Linked DNA regions of Homo sapiens. The protein of the gene in region 1 interacts with the protein of each later gene in a pairwise test. Each region holds a gene or a part of one and is shown in the gene's direction. Other genes may lie near its edges. The genes, in order: CAT, MTARC2 and IDI1.

Evidence for each region.
Region 2: the proteins of CAT (region 1) and MTARC2 come close enough for resonance energy transfer, tested with the Homo sapiens proteins (one large-scale study listed by BioGRID).
Region 3: the proteins of CAT (region 1) and IDI1 come close enough for resonance energy transfer, tested with the Homo sapiens proteins (one large-scale study listed by BioGRID).

Annotation. Positions count from the first base shown.
Region 1 is NC_000011.10:34,469,876-34,472,652, forward strand, and holds the end of CAT (catalase), read left to right. Parts: intron 1-1,082; coding exon 1,083-1,166; intron 1,167-1,492; coding exon 1,493-1,558; 3' UTR 1,559-2,185; downstream 2,186-2,777. UniProt on the Homo sapiens protein: Catalyzes the degradation of hydrogen peroxide (H(2)O(2)) generated by peroxisomal oxidases to water and oxygen, thereby protecting cells from the toxic effects of hydrogen peroxide.
Region 2 is NC_000001.11:220,751,240-220,754,889, forward strand, and holds part of MTARC2 (mitochondrial amidoxime reducing component 2 isoform a precursor), read left to right. Parts: intron 1-90; exon of another isoform or gene 91-170; coding exon of another isoform or gene 171-172; intron 173-3,650. UniProt on the Homo sapiens protein: Catalyzes the reduction of N-oxygenated molecules, acting as a counterpart of cytochrome P450 and flavin-containing monooxygenases in metabolic cycles.
Region 3 is NC_000010.11:1,046,244-1,050,560, reverse strand, and holds the start of IDI1 (isopentenyl-diphosphate Delta-isomerase 1), read left to right. Parts: upstream 1-1,441; 5' UTR 1,442-1,557; coding exon 1,558-1,697; exon of another isoform or gene 1,698-2,242; coding exon of another isoform or gene 2,243-2,297; intron 2,298-4,317. UniProt on the Homo sapiens protein: Catalyzes the 1,3-allylic rearrangement of the homoallylic substrate isopentenyl (IPP) to its highly electrophilic allylic isomer, dimethylallyl diphosphate (DMAPP).

The DNA of each region.
Region 1 (2,777 bases):
GGCTGGTCTTGAACTACTGACCTCAGGTGATCCACCCATCTTGGCCTCCCAAAGTGCTGGGATTTCGGGCGTGAGCCACTGCGCCTGGCCTAGGTTGTATGGGTTTTTTTCCCCGACAATAAGCAATTCTGTAATTCTTTGACAGTAACTGTGTGTCCTATAACTCAATTCAATTCTAACAGTAGCTCCTGGAGCTAGAGTCAGAACCCAAAGATTTAGGGGTCATTTCCCACTTTAGATAACAAATGAGGTACCCTGGCTATGCACACTTCTGCAGATTCTGACTGCAAATCAAACCCTTTCCTCAGGTTTGATAATTTGCTGGAAAGACTCATAGAACTCAGGAAAATGATTTACTTATGATTACCAATTTATTATAAAGAATACAACTCAGGAATAGACAAATGGAAGAGGGGCATGGGGGAAGGCCTCGGAGCTTCTGTGCCTCCCTGAGTGGACCACCCTTCTAGCTCCTGGATGTGTGCACTAATCCAGACACTCCCTGACCTTGCCAGTTGTGGGTTTTTCTGGAGGTTTTATGACATAGGCATGATTGATGAAATTATTGGCTATGGGTGATTGAATACAATCTCCAGCCCCTCTCCCATCCCTGGAGGTTTGGGGGTGGGGCTAGAAGTTCTAACCTTCTGATCGCGTGCTTGTTCTTCCTGGTGTGAGCCTCCATCAGGAATCTATGTAGGCCCCCATGAATCATCTTAGTAGTATATAAAAGACAGTACATTCGAAGGGTTTTAGATCTGTGTCAGGAATGGGGGACAAAGACCAAATAGTATTTTTAAAATTATACTGATTAGGTGTCATTTTCTTGCGCATTTCGGCAGAGGGACATAAGCTCAGTAAGTTAAGTGACCTATCCGAGGTTGCTCAGCCAGTATATGTCAGAGTGTTCACTGGACCTGCATCTTAACTCTGAGGCTGGCATTGTTAAACACCTGTAGTACTGCCTCCTGCTGAAACGTCTTTCCTCCCCTATGGAATAAACACTGGGAAACCACAGTCCCTGGGGAGTGATATAGTAGGGAGTTAGAGTAATGCTTGCATTTATTTTCCTTTGGCCTTAGGTCAAGAACTTCACTGAGGTCCACCCTGACTACGGGAGCCACATCCAGGCTCTTCTGGACAAGTACAATGCTGAGAAGCCTAAGGTAAGCTGGGAGCAGCCTGGCCATGCAGAGGCTGTGTGTGCTGGGTTGGAGTAGGCATGACTTAGTTACCACTTAGCATTACAGTCTGCAGGGGCCATTACCTGCCACTGTTAGATTTCTTAGGCAGCTGTGCAGAAATTCATTTGAGAGATAAAGAATTCACTGGCAAAACACATACTCTTCATTTTAGCGCTGGGCAATTTAAGACAGTTAAAGTGAATGAATTCTGAATTATTATTTTCATTTGCATACATATTAAAACTGAGTAAATATCACGTTGCTGCCCATGAGGTGATTAACCTGCTCATCTTGTTCTTTTAAAACAGAATGCGATTCACACCTTTGTGCAGTCCGGATCTCACTTGGCGGCAAGGGAGAAGGCAAATCTGTGAGGCCGGGGCCCTGCACCTGTGCAGCGAAGCTTAGCGTTCATCCGTGTAACCCGCTCATCACTGGATGAAGATTCTCCTGTGCTAGATGTGCAAATGCAAGCTAGTGGCTTCAAAATAGAGAATCCCACTTTCTATAGCAGATTGTGTAACAATTTTAATGCTATTTCCCCAGGGGAAAATGAAGGTTAGGATTTAACAGTCATTTAAAAAAAAAATTTGTTTTGACGGATGATTGGATTATTCATTTAAAATGATTAGAAGGCAAGTTTCTAGCTAGAAATATGATTTTATTTGACAAAATTTGTTGAAATTATGTATGTTTACATATCACCTCATGGCCTATTATATTAAAATATGGCTATAAATATATAAAAAGAAAAGATAAAGATGATCTACTCAGAAATTTTTATTTTTCTAAGGTTCTCATAGGAAAAGTACATTTAATACAGCAGTGTCATCAGAAGATAACTTGAGCACCGTCATGGCTTAATGTTTATTCCTGATAATAATTGATCAAATTCATTTTTTTCACTGGAGTTACATTAATGTTAATTCAGCACTGATTTCACAACAGATCAATTTGTAATTGCTTACATTTTTACAATAAATAATCTGTACGTAAGAACAGAGATGGTATTTTCTTTCTTTCGACTCCATATGTAACTGTAAACTGCTACCAGACTCTTAATTTGAACATCATCATTTTCAGATGTTTACCCTTAAAAATGGAAATGCCAGTATCTCGAGGACTCCATGTTATTTGTTTAAATCTATAGCCTTTGGACAGCCTTCTGAGACACTGATAAAATAGCAAATGCCCCAACTTTGAAAATTACTTAAATCTCTTGTCCATTTGCTCACTTACCTGTGATTGACTTTTTAAAACAAGGGCTCAGAACCACTGGTCACTTTCCTCTTCCTTCTTTTTAAAGCCCATATTTGCCTATCATGGTTGAAAATCACATGGAAGACTTTAAAGATGAGTTCTGAATACTAAATGAAAATTTGTTTTCCTTGAAAATCTTTATTCCGTTCATATTCAAAACCAGTTTGTGCCGGGTGTGGTGGCTCATATGCCTGTAAACCCAGCACTTTGGGAAGCCAAGGCAGGAGGATCACTTGAACTCAGGAGTTTGAGACCAGCCGGGGCAACATGGCGAAGCCCTGTCTGTACAAAAAATACAAAAATTAGCCGAGTATGGTAACGCATGCCTGTAGT
Region 2 (3,650 bases), on another chromosome or scaffold:
TTTTGTTCAAAGCTCTTAGTATACTTGTGAACACTTGGCTTGAGCACCCTAAGCATTGAGTGTTTAAAGTCCACCTGGCAGAATGCTGGCATTCGGTGCCTGGTGCAGTTGCTGGGAGGGCGTGCTTGTCCTCCCTGACCTTGGAAATCTCTGCTCTCCTTAGCAGCCATATGTGAGTTGATCAGTTTTATCTCTCTAAACCCTTACTGAAGCCAGTCCTTTATTTCTTCTGCACAAATGATGAACTGTTGGAGAAAGGAATCCCTTAAGTTTATTATTGTCCAGGGTGTTATTCCCTGCCCAATTCCTGCTGTTTTTCTCCTCCCACACTCAGTAGTAGAGTTCCTGCTTTCCCTCACTTTTCAGTCCTTCCTGCTCCCCAGGCCAGTTTGTAATTGAGAAATGATATTTTTTTCTGTTGTTTTGGGCTCCACTTACCCGTTGCTGTTGGTTGTTCGGGGCTCTATAGCTCTTTTGGGGAATCGGGGCTCCAGGCTTCTACACTGATCCCTCTACCACATACTCATGTTTTACCTGTGAATTCAAGGTGCTGGCTTTTAGTGTTGCAGACTAGGTTGGGGTAACTTGGTTATGATGAAATCTATGCTCCAGACTTATCTCTTCTTTCAGATCTGGCAGAATAGAACTAGTTATTCATTCACTGGGCATCATTTTGTGCACAAGAGGTGAAAAATAATATTGCCCAGGTTGACAGGGAAATGAGATGGTTGGGGTATGTTACAAATGGTAACCTTTTAACCTGTGATTGCTGTATTTGTCCTGTTCCAAAATTGGACTCCCTGTAAGTTGCCAGTTTTTCAGTGACAGTGATGAGTGGGAAACCTCTAGTGACAACTTCCCACTGTTAACCTCAGCAGTTAACACCTGTATTATTATACAACAGTCTGGAGCCACAGGCCAGGCTGTGAGCCACGGTGAAGGGCGACATTAATAAGGGATGAATGGGAGATGAGAAGATTCAGCCCATGGAGAAATAATGTCAGAAATAATGTGCAAACAGGTTTGCCACTCCTGTTTGGACATGGCTCTGGTTGTGTGCAGATCTCAAAGGGAGTCTTGTCTGGGGAAGGGGCATGTTGGAAGTTAAGGGTGAAGGCTTTAGTGAGGCTAACCAAAGAAATGTGCACCAAGGGACAAGGCTGGAAATAGGGAATAGGGCCCAGCCCTGTGAGGCATCTAAGTCAGTGGATGCCTGCCTATTTCACTGTAGCCCCATTCTCTGGGCAGACATCCTCAGATTTACAGAACCCAGCCCCAGGATGAGTGAGCCAGAGAACTGTGGGATCTAAAGACATCTTTGACCAGGCAGGATGGCTCACATCTGTAATCTCAGCACTTTGGGAGGCCAAGGAGGGAGGATTAATTGAGCCAGGAGTTCCAGACCAGCCAGGAGGTCCAGACCACAGTGGGACCCCATCTCTACAAAAAATAAAAAGATCAGTTGGGCGTGGTGGTGTGTGCCTGTAGTCCCAGCTACTCAGGAGACTGAGGCAGGAGGATCGCTTGAGCCCAGCAGTTCAAGGCTGCCATGAGCTAAGATCACGCCGCTGTACTCCAGAGCCTGGGTGATAGAGTGAGACCCTGTCTCCCTCTCTCTTGATATTAATTAAGTATAAATATATATAAATGAATAAATAATACACATATGCATATATACACTTAGGAAATGGTGGGCTGGGCACGGTGGCTCACGCCTGTAATCCCAACACTTTGGGAGGCCGAGGTGGGCAGATCATGAGATCAGGAGATCGAGACCATCCTGGCTAACACGGTGAAACCCTGTCTCTACTAAAAAAAAAAAAAAAAAAATACAAAAAATTAGCCGGGCATGGTGGCGGGTGCCTGTAGTCCCAGCTACATGGGAGGCTGAGGCAGGAGAATGGTGTGAACCCAGGAGGTGGAGCTTGCAGTTAGCCGAGATCGTGCCACTGCACTCCAGCCTGGGTGACAGAGTGAGACTCCGTCTCAGAAAAAAAGAAAAAAAAAAGAAAGAAAGAAAAAGGTGGTCTCCTCAGTGGGGTGGGGACTTGCTGCTACCCAGTGTCACCAGCTTTTTGGAAGCAGGTAGTCAAGACAGTTACTGGAATGCCTTTACACTGCCACACCATCATAATGCCAGTTAGCAGAGCACAGGCTGCCAGCCATTGTCTTCTGGTGTGGTTGCGGGGAAGGGACAGTTTAGCCAGCACCTGGAAAGGACTTTACGGATAAGGAGGTTGCAGATGTAAGACTATCTGTCAGGGTCAGGACAGGGCAGAGACGGAGCTCCCTGTGCTGGGATATTGGATGTCCTCCTGAGGTCTCCTCAGCCTTTCCCTGATGGCTCTGGTCATATTTTGGAATGTCTCCCTGGGAGGAGCCGCCCCTGCTTCTGGAAGGGGCTGTGCTTTTTATCCTCCTCACATTTGGAAAGCCTCTGGCTTTCAGACAATTTTTACTTATCAGTGCCTGCATTTTCCTCACCCGCTAGTCTGCAGATTCTATCTTCTTTCTAAAATAGTGATATTGGGCTAGGCACAGTGGCTCATGCCTATAATCCCAGTACTTTGGGAGGCTGAGGCGGCAGGTCACTTGAGGCCATGAGTTCAAGACCAGCCCAGCCAACATAGCGAAACCCCATCTCTACTAAAAGTACAAAAATTAGCTGGGCGTGGTGGTACACACCTGTAATCCCAGCTACCCGGGAGGCTAAGGCAAGAGAATCACTTGAACCAAGGAGGTGGAGGTTGCAGTGAGCTAGACTGTACCACTGCACTCCAGCCTGGCTGACAGAGTGAGACTCTGTCTCAAACGAAATGAAACAAAACAACTAAACGAAACAAAACAAAATGAAACTAAACTGTGATATTGAAATTTATTTTCCCTAGGAGTGGAAGATTTTTTTCTTTTTGGCAACACAGTCTTTTGTGTGGTACAGCCCCAACCTATATGCTAGGCTGTAGGTAAAAGCCTAACCAACTGGGCCTGGCCAGCTTCCCCTCACTCTTCAGCTCATCCCATAGAAATACAAAGTAAGAAAACCAAGTCCAGTACAGTGGGCTCTCTAGGAAATAAGTGGGATTCTTATCTAACATGTGACTTCTGTGTGTCTTTGTTCTCTATGTCAGAATGTGTGCATGAAGAGGAAAGGCTGTTTGGGAGGTTTCCTGATGTAGGACCCCCGCATGCCGCGGCAAGTTAAACAGAGCAGAGGCTGGCCTGGTTCCGCTTGGAGGCAGCAACATTGCAAGACCTTTGTCTCAGACTCAAACTCACTTGGCCAACCTCATCTTGTTCTACAACAAAAGGACCTGAAAGCTATTTTACTTCTCCCAGGGCCACAGAGACATATTTAACAGACCTGCAGAAGCTTCTAACCAAAGCAGAACCCCCAGACAAGCAGCAGGGTTGACTAAGCAGTGAGGGAGAGTCTCTGAGCCAGGCTCATGTTCTTGTTTTTGAAACTGGAGATTGCCATACATCAGCCAGACACTCTCCCAGAACTGTTTCCGCCAAATAAGCTCTTTCTGGGGTCACCAACTTTTAGACCCAAATCATTTGGCCAGACCTGGATAATTGTCTGGAAAATGATTGTTAGGTCCCAAGACGGGGTGGGTGGAGAGTTCTGAGGAAGTAGAAAGCTGGAGGGA
Region 3 (4,317 bases), on another chromosome or scaffold:
GTATGTATAGCTCACATTTATTTCAATGTTTAATATTAGAATACTTTGGCCTTTAGAAGCTTAGTGATTTTTTTTTTCCTTGGCCAGAAGTATGCTTTAGGAACTTAATCCTTATTTTTTAGCCTCTGGTAAAATTGGTTTTGCTATACGTTGTTTCACTTAAAAGTCCTGATTCCCAAGAACGCACTGACAGCAGTGAGGACTTGCTGCGCATGCGGGAGGCCAGATTTTCTTATCTGTGTGAAGCCAGACATGAAAGAGATCTGTCAACACATAAAACAAAATCAAAGTCTGTTTTTTGTCTGGAAAAGATTTTTAATAAAAATATAACTTATGTTAGTGTCGTGTGTTTTTTAAGTGAATATTTTAATATGTTTAATTTCTATGTTAGTAAATAGCAGTAGTAAACAACAGTGAGCAAAAGCTTTTAGGTGTCCTCAGTACATTTTAAGAGAGTGCAAGCGTCCTGTGACCAAGAAGTTTGAGAACTGGTGCCCACCAGGTTCATCTCACAAGTTCAGTATTTTAAATTCCACACAAAAGGTAGAGGAAATAGCTGAATTCGCTTCAGCTGCGCATACATTTCACGATTATTTAAAAGTTTAGAGGGCTAGGCGCGGTGGCTCACACCCGGAATCTCAGCACTTCGGTAAGCTGAGCCAGGTGGATCACTTGAGGTCAGGAGTTCCAGACCAGCCTGACCAACATGCGGAAACCCGTCTCTACTAAAAATACGAAATAAGCCGGGCGTGGTGGCGCATGCCTGTAATTCCAGCTACTTGGGAGGCTGAGACGGGACAATTGCCTGAACCCGGGCGGCGGAGGTTGCTGTGAGCGGAGACTGCACCATTGCACTCAAGCCTGGGCAACAAGAATGAAACTGTCTCAAAAAAAAAAAATTTAGAACGTAGTCATGTACCTCGAAAGCGAACACTCCCAACATAGCGTGGAACACCCCACACCCCCGGCGACTTTGCTCCGCCTTGGTCCCGGTCGCAGACACCGCAGAAAGGCCATCGTTCTAGACATACGAGAACTCCCCGTGCAGCCAAACGCTGTAGTCCCAGCGGCGGAACTCGGGGGGGGGGAGGGGGGGGAGTGCCCAACCAGCCAGTCAGCAGTGACGTCCCGCCTTTCCTCCGTTTCCATTGGTCCAGCCATGCGGAGGTCGCTCCCATGGGACGCCGAGCTTCCGGCTGCAGGGCTTGGCGCCCGGGCGCTTTCGGATTGGGAGGGCTTCCTCCATGGAACGCGAGCCTCGAGACGTCTGACGTTAGGCACCGTTCGCAGCGCCTCGGGCTCGCACGGCAGGATCGAAAGCGTGATTGGCTGGCGGCGTCTGTGGTCTCGGGCACCGCCCAGTCGCGGGACGCTGCCTCTGCGGAACTGGGGGTGGGGCGTGTTGACCCCCTTAAAGGCGCCAGAGCCCGCGGTCACGGCTCAGGTTCCCGGTGCTTCGCGCGTCTGCCGTTGTCACAGGCCAGGGAGGTGGCACCACCAGGCGAAGCTTGGCGAGATTGTGTCGTCAAGCGCGTACGGGCGCCAATTGGCCGGGCGATGTGGCGTGGACTGGCGCTGGCGCGAGCGATTGGCTGCGCGGCCCGGGGGCGGGGCCAGTGGGCGGTGCGCGCCGCAGACTGTGCTCAAAGCGGGCGCCATCCGGGACCGGCGGTTGTCTGTGGCCGGAGGCTGATCAGGTACTGTGGACGGGCGGCGGAGTTCGGGAGACAGGGGCAGGGCGGCATCGGGGAGCTGCGGGACGGGGCGGGGAGGAGGCCCGAGGTCTGAGCCACCCGTGAGGTCTCGGCGCGGAGGCCTGGACAGCTGGGGGTGGCGGCGTTGGTCTCCCGAACTGGAGGGAGGCCGGGCCTTCCCGGGCTGTGGTGGGCGCCCGCGCCCCGTGGAAGGCGGAGGCGTGAGTCGGGGCGTCAGAGACGTTGCCATTCTTTGTCAGCGGAAAAGATCGTCGTCTGCGCACAGTCACCTGAGGTTTAGGAACTCGTGGAACTGGAAACCGAGTCGCAGGAGACTAAGAGTTGCGAGTCTCCCCTTAGAGAATTCAGAAACAAGCGTAGACAGCATCGTCAGAAACACGAGCGTGACGACACCGGCCTCCCCGTGCCGAGTCCACGCGTGTGACGCGGGTGCATACACCTGCGTCCGTGCAAGAGGGTGACAGCAACACACTCAAGGCGCTTCTCCTGGGAATGGAGCAGGAGAAGAGATGGGGAGCATCGCATAGATGGAACTAGACCTTTTTCTTGGGTTGGATGATGTGTTCCCGCGTCTACTACATGGTATTCTTTAAACGCATAAATAGACGTATTCATTTTATCTTGTGATTATGCAGCTTAGCTTTAAAATCTGAATTCTGAAAATCCTGAAAGAGCAATTGTCATTACAGCTGGGCGGTGGTGCACGCCTTTAATCCCAGCACTTTGGGAGGCGGAGTCGAAGGCTGCAGTGAGCCGAGATCGCGCCACTGCACTCCAGCTTGGGCGACAGACATAGCAAGACCCAGCCCCATCCCCCCGGAAAAAAAGTCATGTCAAAAAGTCTAGTAATTATGTAGTAACGAAACCTATCTTAGTGATCACCTAATATACAGTTGGCCTACTGTATCCTTGGGGTCCATATCCATGGATTTAACCAACTGCACATTATAAAATATTTGGAAAAAAATTTCATCTGTACTGAACATATACAGACTTATTCTGTAAACAATACAGCACAACTATTTATGTAGGATTTACATGTTTTAGATACTATAAGAGATCATCTACAGATGATAATTTAACGTTCGGCCCGCATCACTTAACAGGGATACTTTGGAGAAGTTCATTGTTAGGTACTTTCATCATTGTGGAAGCAGAGTGCGCTGACGCAGACCTAGACAGTGGAGCAGCTGGGCTGTGTGGTGTAGACAGACGGTGGAGCAGCTGGGCTGTGTGGTGTAGACAGTGGAGCAGCTGGGCTGTGTGGTGTAGACAAAGGACCAGACAGTGGAGCAGCTGGGCTGTGTGGTGTAGACAGTGGAGCAGCTGGGCTGTGTGGTGTAGACAGTAGACAGTGGAGCAGCTGGGCTGTGTGGTGTAGACAGTGGAGCAGCTGGGCTGTGTGGTGTAGACAGTGGAGCAGCTGGGCTGTGTGGTGTAGACAGTGGAGCAGCTGGGCTGTGTGGTGTAGACAGTGGAGCAGCTGGGCTGTGTGGTGTAGACAGTGGAGCAGCTGGGCTGTGTGGTGTAGACAGTGGAGCAGCTGGGCTGTGTGGTGTAGACAGTGGAGCAGCTGGGCTGTGTGGTGTAGACAGTGGAGCAGCTGGGCTGTGTGGTGTAGACAGTGGAGCAGCTGGGCTGTGTGGTGTAGACAGTGGAGCAGCTGGGCTGTGTGGTGTAGACAGTGGAGCAGCTGGGCTGTGTGGTGTAGACAGTGGAGCAGCTGGGCTGTGTGGTGTAGACAGTGGAGCAGCTGGGCTGTGTGGTGTAGACAGTGGAGCAGCTGGGCTGTGTGGTGTAGACAGTGGAGCAGCTGGGCTGTGTGGTGTAGACAGTGGAGCAGCTGGGCTGTGTGGTGTAGACAGTGGAGCAGCTGGGCTGTGTGGTGTAGACAGTGGAGCAGCTGGGCTGTGTGGTGTAGACAGTGGAGCAGCTGGGCTGTGTGGTGTAGACAGTGGAGCAGCTGGGCTGTGTGGTGTAGACAGACAGTGGAGCAGCTGGGCTGTGTGGTGTAGACAGTGGAGCAGCTGGGCTGTGTGGTGTAGACAGTGGAGCAGCTGGGCTGTGTGGTGTAGACAGTGGAGCAGCTGGGCTGTGTGGTGTAGACAGTGGAGCAGCTGGGCTGTGTGGTGTAGACAGTGGAGCAGCTGGGCTGTGTGGTGTAGACAGTGGAGCAGCTGGGCTGTGTGGTGTAGACAGTGGAGCAGCTGGGCTGTGTGGTGTAGACAGTGGAGCAGCTGGGCTGTGTGGTGTAGACAGTGGAGCAGCTGGGCTGTGTGGTGTAGACAGTGGAGCAGCTGGGCGGTGTGGTGTAGACAGTGGAGCAGCTGGGCTGTGTGGTGTAGACAGACAGTGGAGCAGCTGGGCTGTGTGGTGTAGCCAGTTGCTCTTAGGCTGTTTTTCCTGTTGCTTCAGGCCTAAATTTGGACAGTGTGTGACTGTGCTGAATAATGTGGGCAGTTGTAACACAACAGCAAGTATTTGTGTATCTAAACATAGAAAAGGTGATGTGTTGTGCTCCGATGTTACAATGGCTACAACATCATTAGCAATAGGAATATGTCAGTTCTGTTATAATTTTATGGAACCACTGTAGTATATG